Linked DNA regions of Homo sapiens: region 2 is linked to region 1. The links come from fine-mapping of genetic effects on gene expression. Tissue or cell type: fibroblasts. Region 1 holds a variant in brackets; the other region holds the start of a gene. All regions are shown on one strand. Distances are from middle to middle.

Region 1 (8,197 bases):
TTCTCTCTCTGTTTCTCTCTCTCTCTCTTTCTCTCTCTGTCTTTTCTTTTCTTTTCCTTTTCTTTCTAGACAGAGTTTCACTCTGTCACCCAGGCTGTAGTGCAGTGGCATAATCTCGGCTCACTGCAACCTCTGCCTCCCAGATTAAAGCAATTCTTGTGTGTCAGCCTCCCGAGTAGCTGGGATTATAGGCCTGCACCACCATGCCTGGTCAATTTCTGTATTTTTTGTAGAGATGGGGTTTCTCTATGTTGGCCAGGCTGGTCTCAAACTCCTGGCCTCAAGGGATCTACCAGCCTTGGCCTCCCAAAGTGCTGGGATAACAGGCGTGAGCCACTGCGCCCAGTCTTCTTGTTTCTATTGTTACAAGACTCATTTTGAAGGGTAAGGACTTTGCTTAAGATCTGTTTTGTTTTTCCCTTTCTGTTGTATTTATTTATTTTGTGACAGAATCTTGCTCTGTCACCCAGGTAGGAGTGCAGTGGCATGGATCTCAGCTCACTGAAACCTCTGCCACCTGGGTTGAAGCGATCCTCCCACCTCTGCCTCCCAAGTAGCTGGGGTTACAGGCACACACCACCACGCCCACTAATTTTTGTATTTTTCTGTTGAGACAGGGATCTCGCCATGTTGCCCAGGCTGATCTCGAACTTCTGAGCTCAAATGATCCTCCTGCCTGGGTCTCCTTAAGTGCTGGAATTACAGGCGTGAGCAACCTTGCTCAGCCTCAGTGGTATTCTTGCTTTCAGCACCACAGATACATTCATTCATTCATTTACTCTCTTAATTTACTAAGTACCTCAAATGTGCCAGAAATGGTTCTAGGCACTGGGGACACAGTGACCAAGACACATCTAATCTCTGCCTCTAGGAAATTATATTCTAATGGAAGGAGCTAAAAAATGAGTGAGCAAATGCAGTAACTGGTAAGTCTATAAGTCCTGCAGAGGGAAATAGGCAGAGAAAGTGTTGACCGGCTGGGCGTGTGTGTAGCCAGGAGAGTGAGGTTGCTATTTTAAGTAGGTGGTCAGGAAAGGCCTCGCTGATAACCTGTGTCTCACCAAGAGCTGAAGGATGTGAGGGAGTTGTGTGATGTCTGGGGTGAAACAGTTCCAGGCGGAAGAAACCCCAAAGGCACAGGCATTTACGTGGGAACATGTGAGGGGGGCCGGTTTTCAGAGCTCAGTAAGTGCTTAGGAGAGGCGTAGGGGACGCAGTTGGTGTGGGATGCTTGTGTGTTGCGAGGTAGATTATCAAAGGCCTTGTAGGCCTCGAAAGGGCTTGGTCATTTACTCTGAAGGAGGTGGGAAGCCTCTGGGGGATTTTGGATAGAGGAATGCCATGACTGACCTGTTATAAAAAGACCACTCTGGCTGCTGTGTTGAGAGAAAAACTGCAAGAGGTGATGGAAAGATTGGTTAGGAGGCTGTTAATAATCCGGGTGAGAGATGAGAAGGCTTAGATCAGCGTGGCTGGGATGGAGGTGTGAGAAGTGTTGGATTCCGATCTATACTTTTTTTTTTTTTTTTTTTTTGGGACAGAGTCTCGCTCTGTCGCCCAGGCTGGAGTGCAGTGGCTTGATCTTGGCTCACTGCAACCTCCGCCTCCTGAGTTCAAGCAATTCTCCTGCCTCAGCTCCCCAAGTAGCTGGGATTACAGGCACCCATCATCACACCCGGCTAATTTTTTGCATTTTTACTAGAGACAGGGTTTTGCCATGTTGGCCAGGCTAGTCTCGAACTCTTGACCTCAGGTGATCCGCCCACCTCGGCCTCCCAAAGTGCTGGGATTACAGGCATGAGCCACTGAGCCTGGCCTGATCTATTACTAAAGTAGAGAAAAAAAGATTTGCTGATAGATTGGATGTGGGCATGAGAGGAAAAAAAAGTGGAGGGAAGTTGGGTGTGCTGTCCCATTAAGTGGGGGACCCAAGAGAGCCATTCTCCTGACAAAATGAGTTTCTGCTGGCGAGCCCAGGGGACAGCAGTATGGTGCCCAGGAATAAGACAGGACCCACCTTTCTTACTACAGACTTCTTTCTAGGGAGCTAAGACAGGGTGGGTCCCCAGCTCTACAACTATTCTATCTATCTGTCTGTCTATCTATCATCTATCTATCTATCTATCTATCTATCTATCTATCTATCTATCTATCTATCTATCTAATCTATCATTTATATCTATTATCTATCTATCTATCTATCTATCTATCTATCTATCTATCATCTCATAAGTTAATTTTTGAGTATGTAATCCATTCACACCCAACAGGTATGGAAAAGAAGGGTATTTTTTCCTATGATTAGCTCTTTGATATACTTACTATTTTTATAATTCTTTCTTTCAAATTTATTTCTGCTTTTATTTGCTGTTTATTCTGCCTGCTTTTTCCTATGATTAGCTCTGTTATATACTTATTAGTTTTATAATTCTTTCTTTCAAATTTATTTCTGCTTTTATTTACTGTTTCTTCTGCCTGCTTTTTCCTGATTTAGATGCTTTATTTATTTCAATTCTTCTTGTATGCATTTAAGGCTACACATTTCCCTCGTAGCACTGCTTTGGATGTCCTTTGTGCATATCATATGGCTTCATTAGCTCTTTAGAATCATTCACAAAGCCTCTTCTCAAGGCATGAGCCTGTCACCAGGCTAAATCAGGACAGATTTAAGTCATGAACCAGGGTCAATGCTCATCTTGTTCCTCAGCCCTTACCTAGGGAGTTACCTGTGTGCTTCTCCTTCTGCCCTCAGGGAGAATTCTCTCTCAGGGACCTCATTGTCCTGTTAAGCCCATCAGATATATTTAAATGATTTTGAATAGCAAGGGGAAAAGATCTCTTTCTCTGCAAGAGTCTTCCTGTTCCTATGTAAATTCCTGGGGCAAATAGGTGAGTGGGCAGAAGAATTCTGTCCAACTCCACTCACAGCACTCATAGTCCAAATCCCAGTAGGTTGGGGTAGTGGCTGTTGAAGAACCCCACCTCACCCCTAGAGCTGCTGCCCATGTATCCTCTTGCACCTACATTATTTCATTTAAGCTTCATGATGATTTTGCAAGGTAGTAATTTCAATCCCCATTTTCACAGACAGATACAGGTGCTTAAGAAGATAAAACAACTTACATGTGTTTACACAGCAAGTGCCAGAAATGGGATTCAAACTCAGGCCTGCTTTCAAATATGGACCTCTTCCACTCTACCAGGATGCCGTCCCAAATTTTTTTTTTTTTTTTTGGTTTTGAGACGGAGTTTCACTCTTGTTGCCCAGGCTGGAGTGGTTTGATCTTGGCTCAGTGCAACCTCTGCCTCTCGGTTTCAAGCGATTCTCCTGCCTTAGCCTCCTGAGTAGCTGGGACTACAGGTGTGCATCACCACCCCTGGCTAATTTTTGTATTTTTAATAGAGACGGGGTTTCACCATGTTGACCAGGCTGGTATTGAACTCCTGACCTCAGGAGATCTGCCTGCCTTGGCCTCCCAAAGTGCTGGGATTACAGGCGTGAGCCACCGCACCCAGCCAACCTTCCCAAAAGTTTTAATACTCATGCTTCAGTTATGCAATTGTGTCAGGAAGTGATGCATCCTTTCTAAATTATGTTTTGAGATAATCAAAGCTTAGCCTTTTAAGCACCAACATTTTGTAAACTTTTGTAGACAAAAATATTCGTAGAATGTGTTACATATTTTTCACTTTCTTAAACAGAGCATGCTGGACAGATTTTAAACTTTGCTTGATGATTCATGTCATGTTTAAGAGCATCAATTATTATGTAATGCCATATTATAGGGAGTTTAAGTATCTTGCCCAAGGCTAGACAGCTGTTAAATGGGGAAACTGTTCAAATGCAGGCAGTCTGGCTACAGAGCCCATGTTCTTAGCAACTATGCTATCATGCCTCACCAAGTGCTCAAAAGAATTAGAGATCGCTGTGGGCTGGAGATGAGTC[G/A]TCCCAATAGTATTGGTTGCTCTGGCAAAGAGCAGGGAGGCAGAATCTGAAGCCATCCAGCAAACTTAGCAGGGGTGGAGATCAGGGTCCACTTTGCTGACATTTCAGAATAGAGAAATGCCATGTCATAGCAAAAGTCCAGGAAGAACCAGATCAGAGATAGAGGGGTGAAACAAAAAGTGGATATTGGCCAAGTGTGACTCATGCCTCTAATCCCAGTGCTTTGGGAGGCTGAACTGGGAGGATTGCTTGAAGCCAGGAGTTCGAGACCAGCCTGGGCAACATGATGAGACCCTGTCTCTATAAACAATTTTTACAAAGAAAATATTAGCCAGGCATGCTGGCATGCACCTGTTGTCCCAACTACTCAGGATCCTGAGGCAGGAGGATCGCTTGAGCCCAGGAGTTTGAGGCTGTAGGAAGCCATGATTGTGCCACTGCACTCCAACCTGTGTGACAGAGTGAGACCCTGTCTCTAAAACAAAACAAAACAAAACAAACAGACAAACAAACAAAACCCAAAACATGACTATCAAGGAATCTATGCATAAGAACCTGAGATGAAAATCACATGTTAGAGTTTCTTGTGGGAGGAGGAGTGCTGATAAATGGCACCTGTTTTTCCTGCTCAAGTTCTGAAAAACCTGACAGGTCCAGAGTAGCAGATGGGCCACAGTTCTCCTTTATTTTTGTTCAAGGTTAAATTGGAAGCCATAGCTCACTGCAAGAACCAAATGGACCTGTGAAGTAATTCCAAAATTCAACATACTTACCCCACACTCATGTAGGCACTGGACCAGGTAAAACTTACAGCATGGAGAAACAGAGGACTCTTGGTGCTTGCAGTTAAGTTCACTTCCAAGAGGGAAAAGGGTGTAGCTGATCCAAGAATGCCTATGACCATAAGAAGTACATTGCCCGATGTGCAGCAAGTCAGTATACCAACACTGAGGGTTGCAGCAGAGAAAGAGGTTTAATCGTAAGGCCGCTGAACAAGGAGACAGGAGGAAACCTCAAATCCACCTCCCCAAGGAGTTTGGGGCTAGGAATATACATAAATGCAAGTATAGGACTTGCATTTATATATATTTCTATATTCCTATATTTGCATATATGTATAATATATATATTATATATATAAAAATGGAAGTTAGGACTCTCTCTCTCTCTCTCCGTAGGTCTTGCCTTCCTCCCACCTCAGTCTCCCGAGTAGCTGGGACTACAGGTGTGTACCACCATGTCTGGCTAATTTTTTATTTTTTGTAGAGATAGGGGTCTCACTATGCTGGCGTGGCTGGGGGGCCAGGGATTTTAATGGGTTTAGAGTGGATTGAGCTGTAGGGATTTTTCATGGGTTGAAGAGTGCAGGGTGAAGTCATAGGATGGGGTGATGAAGAAGCTATTTTCATGCGGACTCGGTTCCTCTGTGGGGTCTTCAAACTGGTTTGTGTCAGCCGTTTCACTAGAATGCAGGGTCTGAAAAGCATCTTAAGTAATTCTTAAACAAAAGCTTTATGATTCTATCATCAGAGATCCTATCTACAGGAACAGTGGGGATGCAAAAGGTCTGTATCTGGTGCTATGTGACTTTCAGTTACATGGAAGTGGGCAAAGTGCAGCCTGATGAATGCTTAATTGTAACCTTATTTCTGTCCAGAACCTGCCATGGAATTCTTGTTAACCCTGTGATGATGGTTTCATGCCCAGTATATTCTTCTCAGAAAAGTGTTTCTACCTCCTCTTAGACAGAGTGAATAAGAGACGGTGAGAGGCCAGATGTTATATTAATGTCTTGATGGTCATCCTTTTCATGGAGGAAGCACCAGAAGTTCCCCTTGTGGAGTTCTAATTAGAGAAAAGGAGTTGGGCTGGTGGGACCAAAGGAATGCAAAAAGAAGCAGATAAGCTACAAATCTGCCCTTCTTCATGATCCAAGACACATAACCCTCCTGCACAAGTAACTTACAATCTTCCTGCACTCAGCTATCACCAGACCCTCAGCTGATAGAAAAATGCAAGTTAGCTCGCTGCAACCTTGGCAATATCAGTACTGCATAAAGCCCTCTTCAGCACAAGCACAAACACTATTGTTTAAAATCCCCAGCAAGCCTTTGTCTCCTGACAGTCAGCTCCTTTTTGCTGGCCTGCCTGTTGCTCCCCTGCAACGTATTTTTCTACTTCCTCTAATAAATCTGCCTTTCTTTACCTACAACTGTCTTGGTAAATGCTTTCATCACTGGCACCACTGGTCTAGATAGTCACCACTCATCCATGACACCCCTTACCTTATAGTGAATAGATTTTAGCTGTGTATCCTGTAACTTTTCAACCATACCATGGTTCGCTAGAATTGATAACACTTTTCAACCCTATCCCGATAGTAGTTGTCAGGAAATGCTAGTGAAAGAGTTTGGAATTAAACTAGCATTCTAGCCGAGCATGGTGGCTCACATCTGTAGTCCCAGCTAATAGGAAGGCTGAGGCAGGAGGATCAATTAAATCCAGGAATTCAAGGATGCAGTGAGCTATGATTGTGCCACTGAACTCCAGCATGGGTGACAGAGCAAGATGCCATCCCTAACAAAAAACAAAAGCAAAAGAAAAAACTGAGAGTCCAAAGATGTGTTTGATTTAAATAAGTAGAAAGAGCAAGATCATTATTCTAGACAGAAGGAAACAATTTGAGCCAAGAAATATTCATTCTGTATTTAGGGGACAAATACATGAGCTGACTAATTTGAAGAGTTTCTAAAAAGCTAAGTTTGAGCAAGCCATGCCTGGCGAAGAAGTTGAAGGTTTCCAGCGATCACATGTGGAATCAGATGGTCTGACTACTGAGCTTTCTATCTTTGAAAAAACCCTGTGGATGTATAAATGTTCTACAATTTTATGCCAGTCATTTGCCTGTTTGCTATCAGATTCATTCTCTACCCTTCCCTTGCTCTGGTCTGTATTGTAGGAAAATCATTTTCCAGAATTTCCATAATTGCCTTCTGGCTGGGTTTGGCCAATGGGAGGCACTGGCATGAGATTGGAGGGTAAGTGGTAGGAAGAGATCAAGGCACATTTTGTCCTCTCTTTCTGGCATCTCCAATAGTAATCATGTCTCTTCTAGGTTCCTGATCCCAGAAGATGTCCCTGCGGTGGTTCCACCTTCCACCAGCTTCTGCCAGATCCTGGACTCCAGGAACACTGCCCCCTTCAGGCCAACTTTTTGGACTTCCTCACTGTCTTCTGAGCCCCCAGGTCTTCCAACACTTTTGCAGCCACTTCCCTGTATTAAATGCCCTCTGTTTGAAATATCTAGAATAATTTTCATTTTCATGGTTGGACTGATTCACCACTTTCCCTCCCACTCAAATTCAGTAAGATCTACTATCTTATGACAGATATCTACCCACTCATTGCTTCCCGATGCAGACATAAACTTGGATCCCAGGCCGTGGAAGAGCAGGTCAAGGTTTGCTCCTTAGAATTGTTGCTTTGGTGACATGTGGAGAAGGATGGTGGTTGCTGAGACTAGAGGAGACTTGTTGAGAGACAATTGCAATGATTCAAGAGGGAGAGGACAAAGGTGTAAAGTCAGACTGTTTCACTGCAGAGGTAGAGTGGGGAAAGGGACACGAGAGATGCAGAAGAGGCAGAATCAGGTCCCTGATTGGATGGGGCATTTTGGGAAGATGAAGGAGGCTGGAATGATTCCCAGGTTCCTCCAGAGTGAATGGATGGCACTTGTGTTCTTGACTGAGCTTGAGGACACAAGAAGAGGGGCAGCAGATCTAGATGGCTAGGAAGATCATGAGTTTGTGGCACGTTGAGTTTGGGGGGCATGTTGTACTCAGGAAAGGGCAGGAGAGAGATGGTTTAATGTCACAGCATAGGTGATAAGAGATCTATGGATATATAGGTGAAATCCCCGGGAGATGTGGATAGAAAAGAGTTAAAGGCAGAACATGGAAGAGCCTCAACATGGACAGAGAAGGCAGAGGACTGAGTTGGAACAGCCCGAGAGCTCAGAGGAGAGCCAGGGAAGAGCAACATCATGGAGGCCAAGGGAGAGCATGGTTCAAAAAGGGAATGGTCACTGTGTCAAAGCCTGCTTTTAAAGCAAACTAAATATGGCCTGAGAAGGACTCCATACTTCTATATTTGAGTCCTTGTGGATGAACTGTAACCTAGCTTAATAGGCAGACAAAATTGAAACCCTAACTTCACAGTATGCACCTGTAACAATAGCTAAGTCTTGGCCAA
Region 2 (8,149 bases), 58 kb before region 1:
TGAAGAGAGTACACCCTAAGTGAGGTCATCAATGAACAGAATTCTTGTTCTTATCCTTGGTATTAAGGGAAGAACTTCTGATGCGCTTTTCTCAGATTGTATAATCTTCCTTTGTTCTATCTGGTCACCTAACAAATAAGCTCCTATTCTGCTATGAATCCCTTAAACACAAATAACTCTCTGATAAGATAGTCAAGCTCACACCTGTAATCCCAGCTACTTGGGAGGCTAAGGTGGGAGGGTCACTCGAGGCTAGAAGTTTGGGACCAGCCTGGGCAACATAAGGAGACTCTGTCTCAACAAAAAGTATAGAAATTAGCCCCATGCAGTGGGGAGCACCTTAGCTACTTGGGAGGCTGGGGCCAGTGGTTCGAGGCTACAGTGAGCTATGATTGCAGCGCTGTACTCCAGCCTGAGTAACAGAGGGAGGCCTTCGTCTCTAAAAAAGCAAAAAAAAGCAAGTAACTCTCTACTCTCCCATTCACAATTTAGTGCCATTTAGTTACATGTTTAGCCTATAATTTCAAAGACATCATTTAAAATCTTTAAAACATCTATACGGCCAGCATGGTGGCTCACACCTATAATCCCAGCACTTTTGGAGGCTCAGGCAGGAGGATTGCTTGAGCCCAGGAATTCTGAGACCAGCCTCAGTAACATAGGGAGACCACCATCTCTACAAAAAAATTAAAAAATTAGTCGGGCATGGTGGCTCGCGCCTATATATATACATATATATCTCCCATGGATAAATTATATCTTGAATGCTGTTTGAAGGTAATAAAAAACTATTCTACTGTTTAACGGTTTCAGTTAGGTCTAGAATCAGTTTTCTGTTCTTGGGTATAGAGAGCTTGTTCCTAGGTATTTTCGGAATCCCTTTGTAGATGTAAAAAGAATTTTGGTCGTTGATTTCATTTCTTGCTTTAAACTTCAAAAGGACAGTAGATTGTACTATTTTTTTTCCCTCTACTTATCAACCTACATGTAGGAAAGTAATAACTGAATTATGTGCAAAGCATAAGTAAAATTCTCTAGAGAAGCAATTTTCCTTAAGAATGTTAAATTGAATTAAAATTGTTGCCTATTCTCTCAACTATTGATATGGCCTTATGATTGACACATTATCCCTAAACTGATTTTGATATTCTACATTGATTCAAACACTCTGATTCATTTAGTTGAAAAGTCCATGTCTTCCCCAGAACCATTAGATAAAGTGCGGACTTGTTTCTCTTTAATTTCTGGTCATTTAGAAAGTTTGCCCATTAATAATAAAAACAAAATAGTTGAAATCATTGTCTAAAAAATGGATCCCAAGTTCTTATTCAGAATTGGACTTGGAACAAAAAAATATATACAACCTGGAGTGCTCAAAGTCAACATTAATTCAATAAAATACAAATATCTTAGTTTGGTTTCTTTGGGTTGCAAGGAAAAGAACCTTAAGTAAAAAGGGGACTTTATTAAGGTTACTGAATTAACCTAAGGACAAGAAGTGACGCTGAGTGCCTGGAAATCCATTTGGATTTATGTATTTGCCACTTTGCATATCTTCATTATTTTTCTTCCTCTGCAGACAGGTGGACTACAGCTGCCCCAAAGCAAAATTTTTATGTCTCCCGTGAAATGACCTCAAGGGACTGAGCAGCATGTCTGCTCAAAGACACAGAAGAGAGAATCTAACTGACCTAACCTGGGTCATGTGACTAGCTATGGCCAGAGATTAGGAGATCAGAGTCTCCTAATCAGGTTGCCAACGCCCACTCCGGGAAAAGGGACATTCTCTGACTTGGGCTGGGAGACACTCAGAAAGTGTCTACTAGAATGCAACTTTCACCAACACATTCCCCAGACCTCTTCCATTAAATATTTATCTGTATCAAAGGGAAGTATAGTTCATTTCTGATACGTCTCTGTTCACTTCTTCACATTTTATGCTGCAATCACAAAGACTTGCTTGTCATCCCAACTACCTGTTCGCTGCTTACCACTCCTACTCACCTACACAATCATATTTCATGCCTAAGTCCTGTGGTCCTCTGTGCTTGTAATGGTCTTCTTCCAATCCTTAATGTCATTGCTTCTAGACTTTACCGGCTCTCTTTACCTTCCTAGACTAGTTAACCTCTTTCTTTTAGGCATTGTAACATCATGCACATAAATCTCCATTATTGTCCAGCTCCATTGTTTTGAGATTTACTATCTAGTTTCTGACATCTTTATACCCCCAGACATTGCAAGCCTCGCCTACGGTGGGAGGCCAGGTTGAACTAACATACCCTGAAAGTTTCCTTTTAGCTAATAATTGACTCTAAAAGAGAGTGTAATCATTACATAAAAAGTATTGTCCTCTGGGCGCGGTGGCTCACGCCTGTAAATCCCAGCACTTTGGGAGGCCGAGGCGGGCGGATCACGAGGTCGGAAGTTCGAGAGCAGCCTGACCAACATGGCGAAACCTCGTCTCTATAAAAATACAGAAATTAGCCAGGCGTGGAGACAGGTGCCTGTAATCCCAGCTACTCAGGAGGCTGAGGCAGGAGAATGGCTTGAACCCGGGAGGCGGAAGGTTGCAGTGAGCCGAGATCGCGCCACTGTACTCCAGCCTGGGCGACAGTGCCAGACTCGTCTCAAAAAAAAAAAAAAAAAAAAAAAAAGTCTTGTCTGCATAAAACCCTTACAATTGTTAACTTGTCAAGGTTCTAGTAGCCAGGAAGTTCTAATCAAACTCGGCCCCAGGACTGCCTTGTCAGCACGCCCCTTGAGAAACTTTTCTGAGAAACCTGCTGTTTACCTGGTGCCCTAACCAGTTTAATTTTCTTTTAAAACTTCTACTGGATTTCTCCTTCTCTCCTTTTAGATGCAATTTTGATCTAGAGAAGTAATGGTCTGAGCATCAGTTTATGAAATTATTTTATTTTTCTGCACATAAACATTATTTTTCAAAGACAATTTCATTAACTACATCCTGCAGCTCTGCAGACTTTCAACAACTTTAAAAGGTTAGGCGTTTGAGATATGTTCGCCTTGACTTTCAGTCCTCAAGACATATGTACATTTTTCTTAGTCTCAAAGCTCATGTCTGCACTCTAGTCCTAAAGGATTTGTCTTTATAATTCTCACCTTAGCATGAAATGTGCTTCTCTTTCTTTCCTTCCCCACCCCCCACCCCCTTTTGACATATCCGGTAGGGAAGCTCTGGCAGATTCTCAAGAAGAATTTTGCAAATGGTCGACTTTTGTTCATCTCAGGTTTTGGAGGGAGAGGATAAAAGAACATTCCCTCAGATAATGAGTTTTAACCTTAATTCCTTCCAAAGCGGAGGGGGAAACAAAACTACAGCAAGACCACCTTGAGTACCTTGGGAAGGGCAGCCCCGCGATCCCTAATAAATGAATTAGCATCTCAAGGAGGAGATCACTGCGGGGCTGATATTGATCAGGGTCAGCCGGCGTGTTTGCCAGCCATTGTTTGGGGGGTGGTTAATTGAGTGTCAGTCTCGGCCAGTGTCGTCTCGTTGGCGCCGGGTGCTTTTGGATTTGCTAATTTTCGTTAAGTGTCTCTAGCCCGCTACTCGTCCCGCGTACCCGGGAGAACCTAGCGGCTCCTAACGGATCAACAGTCAGTCTGTCTGGGCTTTATTGATCCCATGGCGGGCAGCTCGAGGCGGACACGCTGAGGGGGTGGGGGGCGAAGGCTGAATGCAGACCCCAGCGCTGGGCCGCCTCCCCCGGGCTCCCACCCGAACCCTCCTCCGCCACCTGCACAGGCCGGGGCATTGTCACTCGCCCCTGGGGGTTCCAGAAAACGCAGTGCGGCCGGGGAGGACGACCACACGGACCCCCTGCGTGTTTCGGGGGGCACCCAAAAGAAGCCCCGCGCTGGGGAACGCTGACCACCCGAGGCTGAGCCGTCAGGGTCTCGGAGGCGGGTTCCCGAGCCGGTCCCGGGGCTGGGCTCCCCCGGCGCCTCGCGAAGGTCACTGACGCGCAGGCCTCCGCAAGGGGGAGCGCGGGAGACGGCAGCGCACCAGCCGGGCGCCCCAGCCGGGCGCCCCAGACGCCGGCGCCGCTCGGAGCCGCCGGGCAGGTCCCCCAGCGCTCGCGTCTGGGCCCGCCCCCCGCTGCGGGGCGGATTGACAGGAGCCCGGCGGCCAATCGGACGCCGTGGGGCGGGGCGAGGCGGGGCGGTGCAGGCCGGCTCCCGGCGCGGGGCGCTATTTACGGCGCGGAGCCGGAGAGACCTGGGCTGGCGCGGGCGGGAGCTGCGGCGGATACCCTTGCGTGCTGTGGAGACCCTACTCTCTTCGCTGAGAACGGCCGCTAGCGGGGACTGAAGGCCGGGAGCCCACTCCCGACCCGGGGCTAGCGTGCGTCCCTAGAGTCGAGCGGGGCAAGGGAGCCAGTGGCCGCCGACGGGGGACCGGGAAACTTTTCTGGGCTCCTGGGCGCGCCCTGTAGCCGCGCTCCATGCTCCGGCAGCGGCCCGAAACCCAGCCCCGCCGCTGACGGCGCCCGCCGCTCCGGGCAGGGCCCATGCCCTGCGCGCTCCGGGGGTCGTAGGCTGCCGCCGAGCCGGGGCTCCGGAAGCCGGCGGGGGCGCCGCGGCCGTGCGGGGCGTCAATGGATCGCCACTCCAGCTACATCTTCATCTGGCTGCAGCTGGAGCTCTGCGCCATGGCCGTGCTGCTCACCAAAGGTGGGTGCCGGGGGCGCACGGGGCCCGGGGTCCCGTCCTCGCCGCGGGGCTTTGGAGCCGGCTGCAGAGGCTTTGTTAGCGGCAGGCGAGGCTCCCTCCTGCGCCGGAGCCGCAGGTCGCGACAAGTTGCTGTGTTCTTAGAAGTCGCGGCGGTGGCCTGGCGCGTGGATGCGGACTCCGATCTAAGGGCAGGCGCTGATCAGAGGGTCCTCCTGGCTCTGCCTGCGGGGAGCGGCGCGTTTGCAGCCCAGCGGGGAGCGGGGCCGGAGTCTCGGCCTCGACGCCGCCGCTTCCGCACCCTGGGGGCTCGGGCGGCCGGGAGGAATCGCAGATCCTGGCCTGTAGCTGCCGCGTGCCCTCAGCGTGTCTGTGTGAGTGCCTCAGGGTGTATTTCTGTGAGTGTGTCTCTGAGTCTCAGTATCCCTAAATGCATTTTTGTGTCTCTGAGTGTCGTTGTGTTTCTGAAAGTGTGTCTGAACCTCTGTATCACTCAGCGTATCTCTGTGTCTCTTTGAATGTATCTCTGAATGCATTTCTGTGTCTCTTTCTGAGTCTTTGTGTCTCTGAATGTGTGAGTCTCTGTATCTCTGATCTTGAGTGTGTCTTTCTGAATGCATTTCTGTGTCTGTCTCTAAGTGTCTTTGTATCTCTGAATGTGCATCTGAGTCTCTGTGTGAGTGTGTCTCTGCGTACATCTCTCTGTGTGCGAGCGAGTGTGTGGGTCTCCCTGAGAGTTTAGGTGTCCGAGGTGTGCAGAAGTGTGTGTTGTGTTGCTTTTCAGCAGCCGGGAGGAGTAGGCTCTGTCAGCGTCTCACTGCCACTCACCTCATATTTTACAAACAGGACCAAAAAAAAAAAAAAGGCAGCGGGTCAGTTTCTTCTTTCCTCTGCAGGCTTTCACCTTTTAGAAAGAAATAACCCGAACTGTCTCCGAATTTCAAGGTTCTCCTCACCTCCCTGCTGTGAAATCTACCTACTGTTCTGTGAACAGATAATTTTTTTAAGTAGGAAGCAGTTTAGTCTTTGCAGCCCCCTACTTCTCTTTAATTGCTATGTAGCAGGCATGAGGTTAAAGCATAAGCTAGCCCAGCGAGGATGATGTGCTACAGTATTTATTTATTTTGGAAGGAAGGGTGTAATTAACCCTAAATAACAGCCCTTGTGGCTTGCAGAGGGGAGCCTCCTGGCCCTATCAAAGGCGGGCAGAACAGGGAGGGACTGAGGCTGACATGAAGTCACAGATACCGAAACTATGTGCCTGATAATGATATAATTAGGGGATCAGAGATTTCTGACGGCTGCGGACTTCAAAAGCTTTAAAAGAAGCCAGCAGTCTCTCCTGTAGCCATCTTGACTAAAGCAGACATTTTTGTTTAATCACTACATACAGTAACGAGAAGGGGACAGAAACAGAAGGGCATTGTTCCACAGTTTCAAAATACCAGTCCCCTTTCTGGCCTTTTGCATGCCACAGGAAGAAACTTTATGAACGACAGAAATATAGTTTTAATACAGTGGTACAAAAGTCCATTCTCCTTGCTTAAAATGTGGCTCCAATTAAAAAAAAAAGGTAGTTAGAACTTTCCCAGTTACCTGTCAAAATTTTATTAGGCTGTTTTTAGGTCATTGAAAATAGGCTCTCATAAACATTTAAGCAGCATTTTACTTGTATTCAGTCTTCCTTTTCTGTACAAGGTCTGAAGCTAATAGGGTCAAAATGGGCTTTTAATCTGTTTTATTTATACTTTAAATCTATATATGGAATTTGTCAAACTAGGGATATGTAGTCATCACCCCAGAAGACTGGTGAGCTTTATGTGGAAAATAAAGTGAGCTTGGAGGGAGGAGGAGAAAGAGCAGAGAAGTGGTTCTGCAAAGCAAGGTTCTTACTTGAAGCAGAGAAGGAACTTGGGCCCAACCAGTGCAGATTTAGGAGCAAGACCCCTAGCTTTGGACTGTTAAGGGTTGCCAAAGATCTGTGTTTAGCGGGCTGGTTTTCCTTAGAACCGAAGCATTAGCAGCGTCCGGTGAAAACTGAGCATACAATACCGTGGTCTGGAATTTGGACAGATAATTAAATGAGACACCTTACTGGGGCGTTCAGAGAGAGGGGGAAGAATAAAGGTAAGGGTGGGAAGAGGTTTGTAAAACAGCAGATCCCGGTGTTTAATTTCAGAGTGGAGGTTTCGGATCTTCAGACGGGAAACTGGAAGAGGCGTGTGCATTAGTTTAGTTTACTCGCTGTGGCATGTGACAGCGACCAGGGTCCACTAGGTGGATATTGTATTAGTGAGAACTTGAAGACCCAGATTATTTCAACGAGAAACTGATATTAAAGCCTCCAATCTTGCCCTGCGACAAAATGTGAACGGAGCCATGCAACTCACAAAATAAGTTTTTATAAAGGAAACTTTTAATCACTTCCTGTAGAAAATTTGAGGTTTCCTTAAGGATTTTTCATTCAACCAGCAGAGGATTTTCAGTTTCAGTGTTTCCCCTTTTAGATCACATGTCGAATTACATGTAAAACTTGTGAGGAGGAGGAGGAGAAGTTAGCCTTGCAGTTTTATACTCCCCCCACCTTTTATGACTTTCCATTTGGGCTGAAAGAAATTGACTTTGGCAAGCAAACCACTAATTGTAAACTGCCTAGTTCCTGTTTTACAATATACTGACTAAAAGCTCCTCTGCATGAAAAGATCTTTATAGGCAAAAAGTTTGCCTTTTCTAGAGAGGTTGCAAATAGCTGCCTAGTTTCATAGTTTTAAAACCTCCTGACCTGGGCAGTTTCTAGATTGTTGTGTTTCTAGTTAATAACTTTATAAGGTGTTAGCTAAAGCTCTTAACTCTTGGTGCAGTCCTGTGGGATAGTAAACAATTCAGTAGTTCCGATCAAATATTTATACTGACAAAATCAAAAAGCCTAACATTTTTATGTTGTATGGTCATGTAGGATTAAAATGAATAAATAATGTGTTATACCTTATGGTAGGAGAAATTATACTCATTACTATTTCCTTCAAAAAGCAAAAGTTTTTTTAAAATGACTCTAAACTCCTCAGAAACCTGCTATTGGGATTACTACATTGCCAAAATGACGTTTAACTGGATTGAAACTTACGCACTGGCTGCAGGAAGGGCTTCTCCAGGCTCTGTAGACTGGAGCCCTCAGCTTGGATGATCTAAAAGTTCATGCCTTTGAATTTGGGATTTAGCAGTTGCCTAAATAGTTGCTTTATCTGGTCTCTGGAGCAGAGTTTGAGGTGGTTTCTCATTGTTTTCAGGTGAAATTCGATGCTACTGTGATGCTGCCCACTGTGTAGCCACTGGTTATATGTGTAAATCTGAGCTCAGCGCCTGCTTCTCTAGACTTCTTGATCCTCAGAACTCAAATTCCCCACTCACCCATGGCTGCCTGGACTCTCTTGCAAGCACGACAGACATCTGCCAA

Evidence for each region. PIP is the estimated chance that this variant, and not a neighbour inherited with it, causes the effect.
Region 2: it holds the start of BAMBI, and the variant in region 1 is fine-mapped to the expression of BAMBI in fibroblasts (GTEx, PIP above 0.99).

What each region holds. Positions count from the first base shown.
Region 1 is chr10:28,731,255-28,739,451 of GRCh38, forward strand. No RefSeq gene overlaps it. Among named protein-coding and RNA genes, the nearest start is that of LINC01517, 8.3 kb to the right of the region's middle. The variant G/A (reference allele first, on the strand shown) is at 3,947.
Region 2 is chr10:28,673,276-28,681,424 of GRCh38, forward strand. BAMBI (BMP and activin membrane bound inhibitor) reads left to right here and starts at 4,246. Exons shown (of 3, transcript NM_012342.3): 1 at 4,246-4,698; 2 at 7,983-8,149. The coding sequence starts at 4,623. RefSeq lists silencers at 3,714-4,273, 4,999-5,143.